2 separate regions of the Homo sapiens genome follow, and region 2 is linked to region 1. Evidence: fine-mapped expression QTL. Tissue or cell type: breast. Region 1 holds a variant in brackets; the other region holds the start of a gene. All regions are shown on one strand. Distances are from middle to middle.

Region 1 (8,000 bases):
GGATAAAATAAGAGGCCCCTGATAGGGGCTCTCCTATAAAGTACAGGAACTTCGGTGTATGCACACATTTACTGTTCTGTAGCCTCTTCTACTCTCTTCTTGATCACTACTAGGCCCAACTATAGTCTAGAGGTTTTATTTTCTTAAATAAAATTGTTTTGTCTTTTTCCTAATCAGCCCACTACATCTTCAAGTACTTCTCTGCAGCACCAATATTTGGTTTGCTTAATAGAAAAATATGAAGGCACATTGAGATGGATCAGTGTAATAGACTGAAAAGAAACTGGTATTTTAATGTACCCCAAGTGTTAAAGGCTAGAGAGAAAAGAAGATGCTGAATGTTTCTGCCACCTCAAAGGCTTCTAGTCAATTGAGTACAAAGAAGAGTTCAAAGGCAAGTCAGGCTCCTGACTTCCACCTCCTAGTGTGGCTGAGGTTAGAGGTCACTGCTGGTGGAGCCACTGACCAATAAAAGAATGTTTGGAAATTCTACTCAACAGATAAACTGGGGATCCATTTACACCTTCCTCCCTATCCATACAAACATTTCTAACGATACAGTCTAGTGTCTATCCAGCCTTCTGAGATCCCAGATTGTGTACTTTTTCTTTGTGATTCAGGGGAGACTGGGAATATGAATGTTCCATTTGACTACAGAAAAATATTTAGCTGCATACTTCTGCCTGCCTTCCAACATAAGAAAGATGGCTGATGGAACTCCCATCTCAAGGCCTACCTCAGATTCTACATCTCCAAGAAATTCATCCTGACAGCTTTAGCCCCAACTTTCTCCCTTCCATTTCAGACCCTTAATGACCCATAATGTACCTAGAAATATCGGCATCATCTTCTCAACTTTCTTTATGCTTATACCCATATATCCCCAACACAAGCCCTTTGTGAATGGGGATCAAAGATTTTTTTTATTATCTCCTATAATCTCTCCCCCCACCAAAAAACATTAGGGATTCAATAAATTAACTAGTTAATCATTAGCTCACAGGACAATAAAAGGCCAACTGAGAAGTCAGCTTTATACTGTTACAACTACTGTCTTCTACTGACTTAAGGAACTGTTTTTTAACTTCCCCACAAAAAGCCCTATAAGCCCCCAGTAGTCTGCCCAATGCCACGTGTGGCAGCACTGCTCACTGGTGGCCTTCAGGAATAGATACCAGAGACACAGGTTGTACTTTTTTTCAAAAGTCTTAGTCTAACTATAGCTGTTACTTACATTAGGCTCTAGCCTTGTAGTTAACTTTTTGGCTGCTACTATCACATCTAAGGGAATTTAATTTCCTTTCTTTGTCAGGTAGTATGACTTTCTCCCTTGGTACACACAAATTCCCGTCACAACAAGGACTTTCACCACTTTAGACATCTGTCAGATTGTAGCCTTTCTGATCCTAAACTCTAAGCTGCAAAATGTTGCTCCAATACCTTCCTCACCAAGACCCTACCCCACATTTCTGGGGCCAAATCAGAAACTTTAGCTCTATTGCATCTAGGGAGAGTAAAATCCTGTGCTAAGCAGGATTTTCTTTCTTCTTCTTCATCTGAAAGAAATGGTCTCTAGAGAGCAGCTATCAGGAAGATGTCAGTGTGAAGCACCAGAGTGGCTCATGGCATTTAGGATTTCTTGGAAAGATTTAAATACTCAGAGGGAAAATGAGTTAATTAAAAGTGGATGGAGACCTCTGCTGGCTACAACTGTCCAATGCAGCTCCATTAAGCTAGTCTGGAGTTTCTCAGCAAGCAAATCAGACTCTGTTCCTCACCCTCAGTTCATTCTGATACATCATCTAGGGGCTCCAAGGTATCAACTACTGATACAATAGGCTTTCCCCTAAAAGTGGATGCCTGTCTTGCAAAAAGACCCACCTCTGACCTCCCTAAAGAGAATTCACTAAGGTATAAGAACTTTTCAGAATCAGGTGTTTTACCATTTTTTTAATTACTCCTGCCAAGGTCAGGTTAAATCAATAGAAGGTAAACAGAAAGCAAAATGACAAGAATGTTTTGGAAACAGTATATTTTGTTATAGAACCAAAGAACTCTAATTTTAGAGAGATGAGACATTAACTATCTATAGAGAACAGTGGTTCTCAGTTAAAGCAATTTTGCTTGCCCTCCACCCCCAACCCCAAAGGGGACAATTGGCAAGCAATGTTCTAGAGACATTTTTGGTGATCACAACTGAGGGGAGGGGTGCTATTGGAATCTAGTAGTAGTTGAAGAAACCTAGTCATCCTTTATACCTAACTGGAAATTACTTTAACCAGATAATCTCATATCTAATTGAGATCAGCCCACTCTAGAAATGTGGGGTTAGGAAAAGAAAAGAGGTCATTTTGGGAACATGGATTACTCAGAGAAAGGGGAGTGGGACTAGTGAGTTGCCGCAGTGGAGAGCTTTAGATGGTCCGAAAGCAGCACAGGGAAAGAGGCCGTCAGAAAGCGGAAAAGGGAGTTAGAAAGGGGGCCGGGAAAGTGCCAAGACCACCTTTCTTTTTAAGCTGGCATAGTGGACTGTTCACCACTAGAGGAGGCAAGTGGCCCTTGTGACTAGAGCTGTTCAAGGGGAGAAGAGATGACCACTAAATTATTAATGTTGTCAAGGAGAGTAATGTTCTTGGTAGGGATAAGCATTTCATAGAGTTTTTTAACAGCCACATGGAACATGAGAGATTATTTAGCCAACCCCTTCATTTCATAAATGAGGAAATGGAAGCCTAGGGAGCTTGGGGACTTACCATGGTCATGCAATCAAACGGACAGAGCCAGGGATCAAACCCAAGTCTTTTGACTCAGTGTGTCTCTTTGAACCCAAATAACCCAAAAGTACGCTGTTTTAAATGACCAGCATTCATTCCTTCTCAACTGTTCTATGATTCTGAGCCAACACTGAAAATGACCAAGCTTATCTCAGACCTGTGGTTCCCACACCACCCTCCTATGGGCAACAGTCCTCTGTGAGCTGGCAGTAGACGCCACTCCAAAAACCAAATGATTCTCTTTCACAGCTTCAGGGTGGAGGGGTGGAGAAGAAACTGGATAGAATTTGTGCATTTTAACCTCCCCAGTTTTTTCTTACCCTTTCTAGACTAGATTCTAGTATAAAATAGTCTCTGCTTTAGCCTATAATTCTATATTTAGTTTTACTAATAAATCAAGATTCCATAAAAAGTAACACAAAGTGGGCCAGGTGTGGTGGCTCACGCCTATAATCCCAGCATTTTGGGAAGCCGAGGCGGGCGGATCACTTGGGGTCAAGAGTTCGACCAGCCTGGCCAACATGGTGAAATCCTGTCTCTACTGAAAGTACCAAAATTAGCCGGGCATGGTGGCGCGTGCCTGTAGTCCCAGCTACTCGGGAGGCTAAGGCAGGAGAATCACTAGAACCCTGGCGGCAGAGGTTGCAGTGAGCCAAGATCATGCCACTGCACTCCAGCCTGCACTACAGAGTGAGACCCCTCGGCGGGGAAAGAAAAGGTAACACAAAATGCACAAACATTATGACTCCTCAAGGGGCATTTTCTTCTACACAAGTTTTAGGAACCACAGGTTTAGATAAAAAATCTAGAGATCTCTGGACTGATTTTCTGATTCACTAAAACTTAGATGAAATCAGTGGTTAAATAACAATTGGGAAACCCAGAAACTTAAAACGAACAGGAGGATGCTATAAATAAACTGCAGGGAAGCTAAAACTAACCTGCGATTTGCGTTCAAACCAGAATGCCAAAATATTGCACAGATGAGGTCACTGAGGCCCAGAGAAGGCAGATCCTTACCTAAGGGTACAGAGTTTGTAACCCACAGAGCTGATACCCAAGCCAGGCAATCTGAGGTAAGAACCTACAGACTTAATCTGTGTCGATAAGAAGTTCACTATCATAATAAAGAGGGTGGACTGAACACATCCACTAACCTCACTCTCCTAAAACTCTAAAATGACAATTAAGGGGAATTTTCTAAATTAAGGTATGTATCCCCTAAGAAAAAGAGAATGAAAGACAAGATAACAGCATCAGAATGTGGAAGCTGAAAAGTAAAGGAAGAAGTGGTAACTGATGCTATAGACTCAAGAGAGCTGCCTCCTAAATCAGCTGAGAAAAACCTGAGTCACACTGCAGAGCCCCAAGTCAGGGGAAGAGTGGGGTTCAAGCAGGAGGTCAAAGTGAAACTTTAAGTAACAGTCAGAACCTCAGATCCCCTCCCCACACAGCCAGGCAGATGCGCTGTCCCCATCCAGACAGAAGCCTGTGGCCTGTTCTTGGGACATGGCCAAATGCAGGCTCTCTGCCTGAGGCTGAGGGTGCCGAACTAACAGCAGGGGGTGGCATGGGACACTTACGCACGTACTGCTGAGAATCCGCCAAGCCTCTTTTCCTGCTCTTCTCCCACATCGGTGATTTTGACAAAGATTAAACCTTTTTAAAAGTCCATTAAAAATTTTTGGGATAGTCTTCTTAACTTTTTCACCTTGCTTGATATTTAAACCCAATTAAATGTCCTTCAGGACAAAGAAACGGAAGCAGGACTCAGTGGGACATCAAGTGGAGTATGAGACAGTCAGAGATCAGCCTAGGGAATGGGGTGTCAGAAGGTAGAAGAGAAATTTGGAAAGAGAGGCAGGAAAATGGCAAATGTTCCAGAAGAGAGGGAAGGATTCCCGAATTACAAAGGATGACTGAACTGGGAAGCTGGGCTAGTTTGTGC[A/C]GCAATAGTATCATGGTCAATAGCTACACAGAAGTATTGCCCTGAAATGGTCCAGCTTCCATGGCTGTCTTAGTCACTACGACTATCACCTGCTGTGACTACAAACCCTCCAAAGAGCTTCAGCTTTGCATCTGCTATGGTAAGACCCTAAAATTGCAGTAGGCTTACCTCTGCACAGTTCTCTGAGAGTTATTATTTCAAACCTTATTTGATGCAACTCACCTAACATTAATTTCCTATCGTTTCAGTTTGGCTAGTTGATCTAGTGGAGGAAGTAAACCCCACTCAGGCATTCAGCTCCTGTCCCTCTGTATCCAGTCAAGGCCACCATTTCGGTACCACCCATGTCACCTCCCCAAGACTTGGCCTCTTACCTGTCTCTGCATTTCTTCAATCTGTCTTTGGGGGATGCTCTGCAAAATACTGTACACATCTGACATCTTTTCTTCTGGTACAACCACAGATGCTCTGGAGACAACAGCAAAACAGTTTACATACACACAGCCCTTCACAGAAAGCATTTCTACACACAGTCTTGTTTCATTTCACAAGCAGAAACAACATCCCAAACCTCCTTCAGCCCCACATCCCTTCCGGTAAGTATTATCTCTTTCCCCTCCCTTCTTCACTGGCTGAACTTCTCAAAGGAGTTCTCTTACAGCTCCATTTTTTTACCTCCCACTCCCTACTCCATTAATCTTTCACCCTGCCTCCACTCCACTAGTGTGCTCTAGCCACACTGGTATTATTTCAGTCACTTGAACACACCATGCTCTGCCCTACCAGAGGGCCTTTGCATGTGAAATCCCACCCACCTAGTACACTCTTCCTTTATTCCGTTTCTAAGTTAACAAATACTTTTCTCCTTTAGCTATCTATGCAAATCTATTCATTTATCTGGCATATATTTATGGAAGCCCTATTATGTGCTAACCCAACAGTGAATTAATTAGACAAGGAAGGCAAGAGAGTAAGCAGGCCAGAAGAATGCCTGGGAAACAGCATTCCAGGCAAAAAGTCTAACAAGCAAACAGCCCTGAAGAAGCAGTATGGTGGGCAAGTTCCAGGAACAGCAAGGAGGCTATTGTGGCTGGAGCAGAGTAAAGAAGGCAGAGAATAACACCAGGAAAGAAGAAATGGGACAGACAGAGTCACAGCAAAGAGTATAGGACCTTGTAGGCCACTGAAAGACTTGTGCTTTTTTTCTGAGATGGCAAGCCATGAGAGGGTTTTGGGCAAAAGCATGATATAACCTAACCATGTTCCAACAGGATCATTCTATCTAAAGTGTTAGAATAAACTACAGGAAAGCAAGGACAGGAGCAGAGAGAACAACTGGAGAACACTGCAAAAGCCAGGCAAGAGATGCAGATGAGGGAAGACTTGATGATGGGGATGAGAGGGTAGAGCCCACAGGGTTTGCTAACAGATTAGATGTGGTGGGTAAGAGAAAGAGAGGACTCAACAATCACTTTTCCTTCACGACATTTGGCAGAGTTTGTAATTACATTTGTATAAATTAATGATTAAACTCTAAACCTCACTTCTGCCAACTAGGCTAGTCCATTAGGACGGAAAGTGTGCCTGGCTCCACTCACCAGCGTATCCTCAGCACCTGGTATATTACTGCCTTGCACAGTTAGCACTTGATAAACATTTGTTAAGTAAGTAAATGATTTCCACTATACAGATGGGAGAACTGAGACTCAAAAAAGATTAAGTCATTTGCCAAGATCAAAAAGCCAGCCAGTGAGAGAGCTGGTTATCTCAACCTAGGCCTTCTGACTTTAAATCCATAATTAGCACTACCCAAGCAGATCTAGATTCTCATAGAAATACCCTTTTGGACTCAGCTTAGAGTTACCGCCTCTGTGAAGCCCTCACCAATCCCACTGCCAATGATGGTGTGTGTCTCCCCCTCCTCCTGGCATCCCATCCAGTCACAGCTGTCTCATCACAGGATTTGGTAACTGCTGATTTACTCCTCTGTCTTCCACCACTACACTATGAGTGTCCCTGAGAAAAGGTTTGGCCTTGATTGTATTTGTCTCCCTATACTTAAGACAGCATCTGGTAAATAAAAGGTACTTAATGGATGCTTTCATTGGGAGATAAATGCTGGAAGTGGCTCATCGCTTCTCTAAGGCATGAAGAATAACTACATGCTCTCCTCTTTCAAGCTGAGTTAGGCTCCCTCCTCTCTTTTGGGTTTCCATGGTCCCCTGTGCATACAGCTGCTATGACATTTACCACAAAACATTATCATCGGTTTGTCTTCTCTCACTAGATTCTAGCCTCCTTGGAAACAGAGACTCTATGTTACTCACAAGAGGGTTTCCAATCAATGTGAGATGAATGAATAAATGAATGAATGAATGAACTAGAGCTTTTCAAGTTGTTCAAATACCTGTGGTGATCAGATTTGGACAGAAATACCAAAAAAGTTGGGAGAGGAAAAAACCAGTAAGCATTTGAGGCAAGGAAAAGACTGAGAGATAGATATGAATGGAATTAATTTTCAACAACCTTCACCCTGCAAAATCTTGGGAAAGTGAAGCATGAGAATAGAGGGCTATTCTGTTTATTGCAATATAAATGGTGAACACCCAGTAGAATGGAACTGGGTCCATCTGTACACTGGGAATGTCTCTAAGCTTTCATCTACATGAGGCTCTCCACCACCATCTACAACATTATGCAAATTCAATAGACTCTAGACCAGTGGTTCTCAACTCTGACTACAAATCAGAATCACCTGGGAGCTTTAACATTCAGAATCCCCAAGAATTAGGCAAGGCATTTTTTTTAAGCTCTCCAGGTGAGTCTACTCTGTAGTCAGAGTTGAACACCGGTCTAGGCTAGAGGTTGGTAACCATTTTCTGAAAAGCAACAGTCCCCAACCTTTTCAGCACCAAGGACTGGTTTTGTGGAAGACAATTTTTCCACAGACTGGGTTTGGCAGGGAATCGTTTGGGGATGAAACTGTTCCACCTCAGATCATCAGGCATTAGTTAAATTCTCATAAGGAGAGCGCAACCTAGATCCCTTGTATGCACAATTCACAGTAGGGTCCACGCTTCTATGATAATTTAATGCCACCACTGATCTGACAGGAGGCGAGGCTCAGATGGTAATGTTCACTGGCCCGCTGGTCACCTCCTGCTGTGCAGCCCGGCTCCAAACAGGCCACAGCCCGGGAGTTGGGGACCCCTGTGATGAAAGGCCAGATAGTGATATTTTAAGCCCTGTATGTCATCCAATTTCTGTTGCAATTACTT
Region 2 (8,147 bases), 36 kb after region 1:
CCCAAAAATTAGCCAGGTGTGGTGGTGCACGACTACACTCCCAGCTACTTGGGAGGCTGAGGTGGGAGGGTTTCTTGAACCCGGGAGGTTGAGGCTGCAGTGAGCCATGACTGCGTCACTGTACTCCAGTCTGGGCGACAATGGAGACCCTGTCTCCAAGGAGAAAAAAGAAAATAGAACATATTTAATATAAACATAAATATTTGTTGAACGAACAAATGTCTGTATCCTTCCCAGTTCCATAGGTGCACACGGTTTAGCATCCAAGTTTTGAGTTATTATATGTGACGGCCTCTGACTATTATCTTTCCTAAATAGGAAGGAATTTCCAAAGGAGGAGGGGGAATGGCTAGATATTTCCATAGACTCTGAATTTTCTGTACCCACCCCTGAACACCCTCCTCTCCCACCACCCACCATATGCAAACACATCCAAAGAGCACCATTACTTTCCCCACCCCTGCTTTTTTTTTTTTTTTTTTGAGACAGAATCTCTCTCTGTTGCCCAGGCTGGAGTGCAGTGGTGTCATCTCGGCTCACTGCAACCTCTGCCTCCTGGGTTCAAGCGATTCTCGTGCCTCAGCCTCCCAAGTCACTGGGATTACAGGCGCCCACCACCATCCCCGGCTAATTTTTTGTATTTTTTAGTAGAGACGGAGTTTTGCCAAGTTGGCCAGGCTCGTCTTGAACTCCTGACCTCAGGTAATCCACCTACCTCAGCCTCCCAAAGTGCTGAGATTACAGGATTGAGCCACCGTGCCCAGGCTGCACCCCTGCCTTTATAAACCTGTGCTATACTGGACCCCTTTTGTAAAACTGCCAGCCTAGACTGAAGTGACAGTGCTCCCGACTCAGGACACTCCAACCTCACCCCTGTAACACACAGAACCAATCCTCCCAAAACAGTTTTCACATGCCAAAGCACAGAGAGATGGAGTATCTCCAAACCATCATCCGAGGAAACAAGTCATAATCTCTCTGTCCAGTGAGACTGCTCCCTACCACCAAGAAGTTAAAATCCCCGGAAGATGACAGACTGAAAGGAATCTTCTACTAATGAAGGTTTATTCCATACAATACCATAACCTGGATCAAAACAAGAATTTCAGCCCTACAAACTTTATCACCTTGAAACACATCAAACCTGCCCCTGCAAAACACTGGAATCATCTGGCTAGCTGTCAAGCACTGAGTCACTGGAAAAGTCTTTTAACCCCAACCTATTGTGAGGATGAGATGCATTTTCTGTTCCTGGAATTATTTATTCCTAAAATTTGCCTGAATAATCTTTCCTTGGTGCTTCAGGTTATAGCCAATCCACTTAGTCCAATGTTTTCAGTCACAGTCTCTTGTCGTTTCAACCTTTTTATTTTTATTTTATTTATTTATTTATTTATTTATTTATTTATTTATTTTTTGAGATGGAGTCTTGCTCTGTCACTCAGGCTGGAGTGCAGTGGCACAATCTCAACTCACTACAACCTCAGCCTCCCAAGTAGCTGGGATTACAAGCGTGTGCTACCACACCCAGCTAATTTTTTTGTATTTTTAGTAGAGACAAGTTTTCATCATGTTGGCCAGCTGGTCTTGAACTCCTGGCCTCAAGTGATCCACCCACCTCGGCCTCCCAAAGTGTTGGGATTACAGGCGTGAGCCACCGCGCCTGGCCTCTTCTTAACCTTTTTAGAAAGGGCCTTACAGCTGAACTCCTGGGGCCACTGCCACACTGGATCTTAACCCAACCATTCCGAAAAACAGAGGAACCAAATATAAGCAAAAGCAAAAAAAGCCACAATTCATTGCCTTACTTGATAGGATTCTTTATAATTAAAGTTATGTTATGGCTAAATGCCCCTAAAAATTATTTTCAATTAAAAACAATGCCCTTTTAATCATGGGAATTATACCATAAGACAATGTGTGTCATTACATAATTAATATGTAAATCTTACTAAGCACTTACTACATGCCAGGGTCTGTTTTAAGCACTTTATAGTGTTAACTTATTTAATCTTCATAACAGCACTATAAGCCAAGCTATTATTACCCTCATTTTACAGATGGGGATAGTACAACAGAAAGTTTAAGTACCTGGCCCAATATTACACAACTGGAAATGCCAAAGCTAGGATTCACAGCATGGCAGTCTGGCCCCAAAACTGATTATCCATTCATACCCTCACATGCAACCAGGAAGTCGGGGAAAGTGAATGATGGAAACTGAATCATCTATTTTATTACAGTGAATAGCCTTTGAGTTCTGAAAGTTACAAACTAAGTCCAGTTAAAGTACATAGAGCACTTACCTGACTTACAAGAAGTTAAGACTTACAAGAATTTAAATGTACATATTTCAAGACCATATCTTCACATAAATAAGTCAAGAACCTTTCTAGATTAGCATTGCCCAATCAGTAACACCAAGCAATTCTTTGATTCTCAAAATTGTGTGTTTAGATCTGGTTCCCACCGAATGTAACAAAGCCCCAAACACCTCTGGACTTCAAGTTGAAGCCCAGAGCCAGTGTGCTTCTGGCCACCTAGTCCCGAGACTAACATGCCCCTGGCCCCGGCCCGACACACCCCCGGGCCACCTAGTCCCTGGCCTAACATGCCACCAGCAATCTAGTCCGCAGTCTAACATACTCCTGCCCCGTCCTGACAGGCCCCCGGCCACCCAGTCCCCTGCCTAACACGCCCCCAGCCACCTAGTGCCTGGCCCAACATGACCCCGGCCACCCAGTCCCCGGCCTAACACGCCCCCGGCCATCTAGTTCCCGGTCACCCAGTCCCCGGCCTAACACGCCCCCGACCACCCAGTCCCCGGCATAACATGCCCCTGGCCCCTTCCCTACCTCGTCCCACGGCTTCTGGCACCGCAAGGGATGCCGCAGGCCACCACCGGACCCTGAGGCGCAGGACATCCCCCTGGGAGGAATCAGATCCCTGTGGCTGGCGGGAAGGTGGCAGCAGGAAGGGAGGGGTCACGGCGGAGGGCGGAGGGCGGGTCGCAGGAGGAAAGGAAGGAGCGGACTGGGGGCGAAGGTTGGCTAGGAGAACAGGTGGGTACCAAGATGCTGAAAGCGCGGCCGCCGCCGGAGGAGAAGGAGAAGCAGGAGTGGAAATCGGAGCGCTCCAAAAGCGGGCAGTCATTGTCACAGCCCCGGCGGGGCTGGGGGTGGCCTCTCGCAGCCCACGGGCCTCCACGGAGCCTCCGCGCGGCCGCGCTCCCTCGGCCCTTGTCCCGACCCAGCAGCGGCCCCCGGAGGCCCGAGCCCTCGCTTCAGCGCCCGCCCGGCCGCCGCCCTGGAGAGCCGCGCTTACCTCGGCCACGGCTGCCTCCCGCTCGGCCCCGAGCTTGGTCACCGGCTCATGCCGCGGGGCGCGGGCCACCTCCGCCCAGGTCGGATCGGTCCGAATCGCCAGCCGCCACTGCCAGGGCCGAGTCTGGGCTGGCGAGCAGCGAGCGAGGGGCCGGTAACCGGGATCCGGGCCGTCTGACACCGAGCGCACTGCGCATGCGGGAGCTGCCGGGCCGCGCCTCCTGCTGGACAGGAGGAGTCCGAGCACCGCTGCAGTGTTTTCCCAGGCAGGCGCGCTCAGGCTCCGCAGTGAAATGCTCAGACAGCCTCATTCATAATTAAAGAATCCTTAAACCCAAACGAGACACCACGCGTTGCTTATAAAACTAACAAATATGTAGACGTTTTATTATAATCAGTTCTGGTGAGCGTATAACATTCCTGGAGGGCAATTTGGTACTATCCATCAAACGGAAAATGCTGGTACCCTTCATTCCAACAAGCTCTCTGTACGGAGTTTGCCCTATGGATATTCTCAACAATGTTTGTCAAAAAGTTCCATGACAGCATTCTTTCTAATCATAGCGAAATGCTAGACACAATCGAAATAAATTATGGAATTTGATTGATTTGAGTAATGTGAGATAGTGCAATATATTTGGGTAAGGAAATATCTCCAAGATATTAGTTAAGATCAAAGCGTAGTCCAAAACAGCGGGCAAGTCACTTTTAGGTAAACTATGCATATGCAAAAACAAGAGGGAGAAATATATAAAGTAGGTGCTTATATTCAGGCATGTGTATAACTTTTTTCTGGAAGGAATGCAAGAAGAAATGAACAGCTTCAGGTGGAGTAGTTGTCGAGGCGGAAATGGAAGCATTTATGGCGAGGAAAGGTGGCTCACGCCTGTAATTCCAGCATTTGGGGAGGCCTAAACGAGAGGATCGCTTGAGCCCAAGAGTTTGAGACCAGCCTGGGCAGCAGAGCAAGACCCCATCTCTACAAAAAATAAAAAGTTAACTAGGCATCGTAGCACACGCTTGTAGTCCCAACTACTTAGGAGGCAGAGGCAGGAAGATTGCTTGAGCCCAGGAGGTCAAGGCTGCAGTGGGCCGTGGTCGTGCCACTGCACTCCAGCCTGGGTGATAGAGCAAGACCCTGTCTCCAAAAAAAAAAAAAAAAAACGCATTTTTGTTTTGTATCTTTCTCTATTATTTACATGATTTAGCCCTATCCATGCACACTAAAACCGCTGTCATAAAGCAGTAAGTGGAAACTAAAAAATTAAATTAAAATTCAGAGCGATGTTATTGAGAGGTTAATGAAATGACCCCTGGGCCTGCGATGTTGGTTTGGTAGAGTTGTGGGTCTGGCTACAGGATCCAAATCCCTTCTGGTCCCAGATGTACTTTGGCGCCATCTGGTGGAAGTTGTCACTGATAGCTTAAATATTCAAAGTGATGATTCTGAGACTAGATACCTACAGAGGCTTCCGGCAGCAACCTCGATTCCAGGGATATTTTTGTGAGTTAATGCCTGCTTGTCACAGATCTAGGGAGATTGGGATGAGGACATTCTGGGGATGGGACACTCATGTTCTGCTTCCCCACATCCAAGGGGGCATTGCTCTGCTTTCCAAATCAAATCCCCCCTGCAAATGATACAAAATGTAGCACACACCCACCCCATTTGAGAACTGGATGGGTGGAGAGCAGTGACAATCACCACTGGAACTGTATCCAAATTTATCTTATCCCAGGGAATATTGTTTTCACTTTTTGAAATAAGTCAACAATAGCTATCTGGTCTGGAAGATTGTGGCCTCTTTTTTTCTTCTCCATATTTATCTGTATTTTAAACATGTATGTTTTTAATTAATCCTTTGTTCTTTTATAAAATGAGAATTTGCCGTGTTAAAGAACTGTGTGAGGCACAGCCTCACACAATGCTGCCTATCTTCTTCATTTTTTATAACCTTAAACTTGCCTAATGCCTGGCATATAGTTAATTGCTCAATAAATAGTTGTTGAATGGAGAAAGGATGCCTAGACACTGGGAGGAGCTAACTAGAAATAAGACAATAAGATTATTCAAAGGAGAAGGTAAAAAGTGGCATAGAAGCATATAAACAAAATGCTACAGAATTCAAAAAAAAAAAAGAGGTGACATCCAGTTGGAAAAATCTAGGAAGAGTTCAATCAACAGTTGATATCTTTGTTTATCCTGGAGGACACTTAGTATTTTGACAAGCAGAGAGGTGAAAAGGGCATTCAAGGCAGAGAAAGAAAGTCATGAGCATGTGTTAAAGAAGGAAAAGCAGCTGGGCAGAATGGCTCACATCTGTAACCCCAGCACTTTGGGAGGCCGAGGCAGGAGGATCACTTGAGACCACAAGTTCAATACCAGCCTAGGCAAAAAAGTGAGACCCCCATCTCTGCAAAAAAAAAGAGTAATAAATAAAAATAAAGAAGGAAAAGCAATCAGAAAGAGCAAGTGTTTTTCAATCCAGTGTGGCTACATTTCTAGGCATAGAAACCATGCAAGTGAGGGAGGTGGGAAAATATAGAAGATGTGAAATTAGAAGCTACATGATGCGAAAGTATCCAAGGATGACTTCAGGGAGGAGTGGGAAATAAATTATAAGCCAGGACCTGAAGTTTCTGAGAAGGCAGAAAAGCGTCTTAGTAGCTGGTGGTTGAAGGAGGAGAGGTTGTAGAAAGATACTGCTTTACTGAATTTGAAGTTACAGGGCAAAGCAAAGATTACACAGATACCCCCTTACCCAGTGAGTCAGGAAATATGAAAGTCAGGATTAGAAAGGGAATGGCTTTCGTGGAAAATAGTGTCATCAGGGGAAAGTGAGTTTCCAATTAGGAGAAAGAGCTGGTGTAGGGTTGAATCCCATATTTAGCACTTCCTCTAAATACAGTTGATTCTTGAACAACACAGGTTTAAACTTTGCAGATCCACTGCTGTGCAGATTTTTTTTCAACAAAAGTTACACCAAGTGTGCCTGCCTCTCCAGCTTCTCTTTCCACCTCTGCTACCTATTCTGCCTCTGCCACTCCTGAGACAGTGAGACCAACCCCCCTTCCTTCTCCTCCTTGGCCTACACAACATGAAGATGAGGAGGATGAAGATCGTTATGACTTCCACTTAATGAATAGTAAATATATTTTTCTTCCTCCTGACTTTCTTAATAACATTTTCTTTTCTCTTGCTTACTTTATTGTAAGAATACAGTATTTAATATATATAACATATAAAATATGTTTAATAGACTATTTACATTATCAGTAAGGTGTCCAGTCAACAGAAGGCTATTAGTAGTTAAGTTTTGGGGGAGTCAAAAGTTATACATCATTTTTCAACTGCTTAGGGGATTGGCACCCCAACCCCCACATTATTCAAGAGTCTACTGTAACAGAGATATCCAAGAATGGAAAAAGGCATATTCTCTAAAGAAAAGGGCTCCATAATATAATTGATCTGTGGGACCTTAGGTTGGCTCAGCTTAAAACAGCACTGGCAGGCAGCATGGTAGGCTAAAAAACACCTAACCAGGTGAAATATAAGGAATACCTTCTCAAGTGAATAGCTGAGCTTACGCACAAAAAAAAGGAAGGAAAACATCCAAAGTCAAAAATGAAGCTTAAATAATAGAAATGACATTGAAGCTACAACTATCTTGGGCATACAAGGCAGGAAGCTGATACAAAGAAACCCATAAAGCTAGGATCTTAAAGAATTACACCCAACAGGGAATACTGGAAAAAATTTGCTCAACATCCACCAAAGAAACTTACCTGTCTTGTCCAGGGAATGGAAAAAGAAGAGAGTCTCACTGATGATCTTTAACACGCATATCTTAGTCAGTTCGGGCTGCTATAACAAAAATACCACAGACTGGGTGGCTTAAACAACAGGAATTTATTTCTCCCAGCTCTAGAGGCTAGGAAGTCCAAGATCAAGGTGCTGGCCAATTTGGTTCCTGATGAGGGCTCTTTTTCTGGTTTGCAGAGGGTTACCTTCTTGCTATATTCTCATATGGTGGAGAAAAAGACCTTTCTGTGTCTCTTCTTGTCAGGGCACTAATCCTACTCATGAGGATTCCACCCTCAAGACCTAATTACATCCCAAAGGCCCCACCTCCAATAATCATCACACTGGGGATTAGGACTTCAACATATGAAGGAGGTGTGGGAGGGGATGAACATTCAGTTCATAGCAATCAAGCTTTATGACCATCTGGGGTTTGAATTTATACCACCAGCATGGTCTAGGAAGCTCCAAGCCAGGATAGTAACATACAGTATTCCCAGGTTGGTAGCACCCAAAGACATCCAACAGAAGGAAACATAAATCCCCTCTGGAGACCCACATCCTCAACACAAGCTACCTAGGATTCTGACAAATAAAACCCTGACAAATGTAAACTCACAATGCAGAACTATAAAGCATATGAGAAAACAAACCACCAGAAATCACAAACAGCAGAAATTTAACCCCCAAGAACTACATATAATTGAATTATGATACATAAATATAAAACAAGTATGTTTATACCACTCAAAGACTTAAAATGAAATGTAAAACATTACAAAGAAATAAGATGTTATATTTTTAAAAGACCAAGGAGACTGAAAATGTACTAAATATAAACATTGAAATTGAAAAGTCAATGCATAAGTTAAATAGTAGGTTAGAAACAACAACGATCGATCTGAAAGACAGGAAACGAATTAAATATAGGAAAGAGAAGTTAAGAGAGGGAGAGGAGAGATGAAGAAAATGGCACATATCTAAAAGGAGGGAATAGAGAAAAGGAGGTGAAGGTAATATCC

The links. PIP is the estimated chance that this variant, and not a neighbour inherited with it, causes the effect.
Region 2: EXT2 starts here. The variant in region 1 is fine-mapped to the expression of EXT2 in breast (GTEx, PIP 0.98).

What each region holds. Positions count from the first base shown.
Region 1 is chr11:44,127,235-44,135,234 of GRCh38, reverse strand. EXT2 (exostosin glycosyltransferase 2) reads right to left here. Exons shown (of 14, transcript NM_207122.2): 7 at 5,097-5,190. Among named protein-coding and RNA genes, the nearest start is that of EXT2, 36 kb to the right of the region's middle. The variant A/C (reference allele first, on the strand shown) is at 4,723.
Region 2 is chr11:44,091,030-44,099,176 of GRCh38, reverse strand. It overlaps EXT2 (exostosin glycosyltransferase 2), which reads right to left and starts at 3,499. Exons shown (of 14, transcript NM_207122.2): 1 at 3,325-3,499. RefSeq lists an enhancer at 2,543-2,592 and a silencer at 3,013-3,632.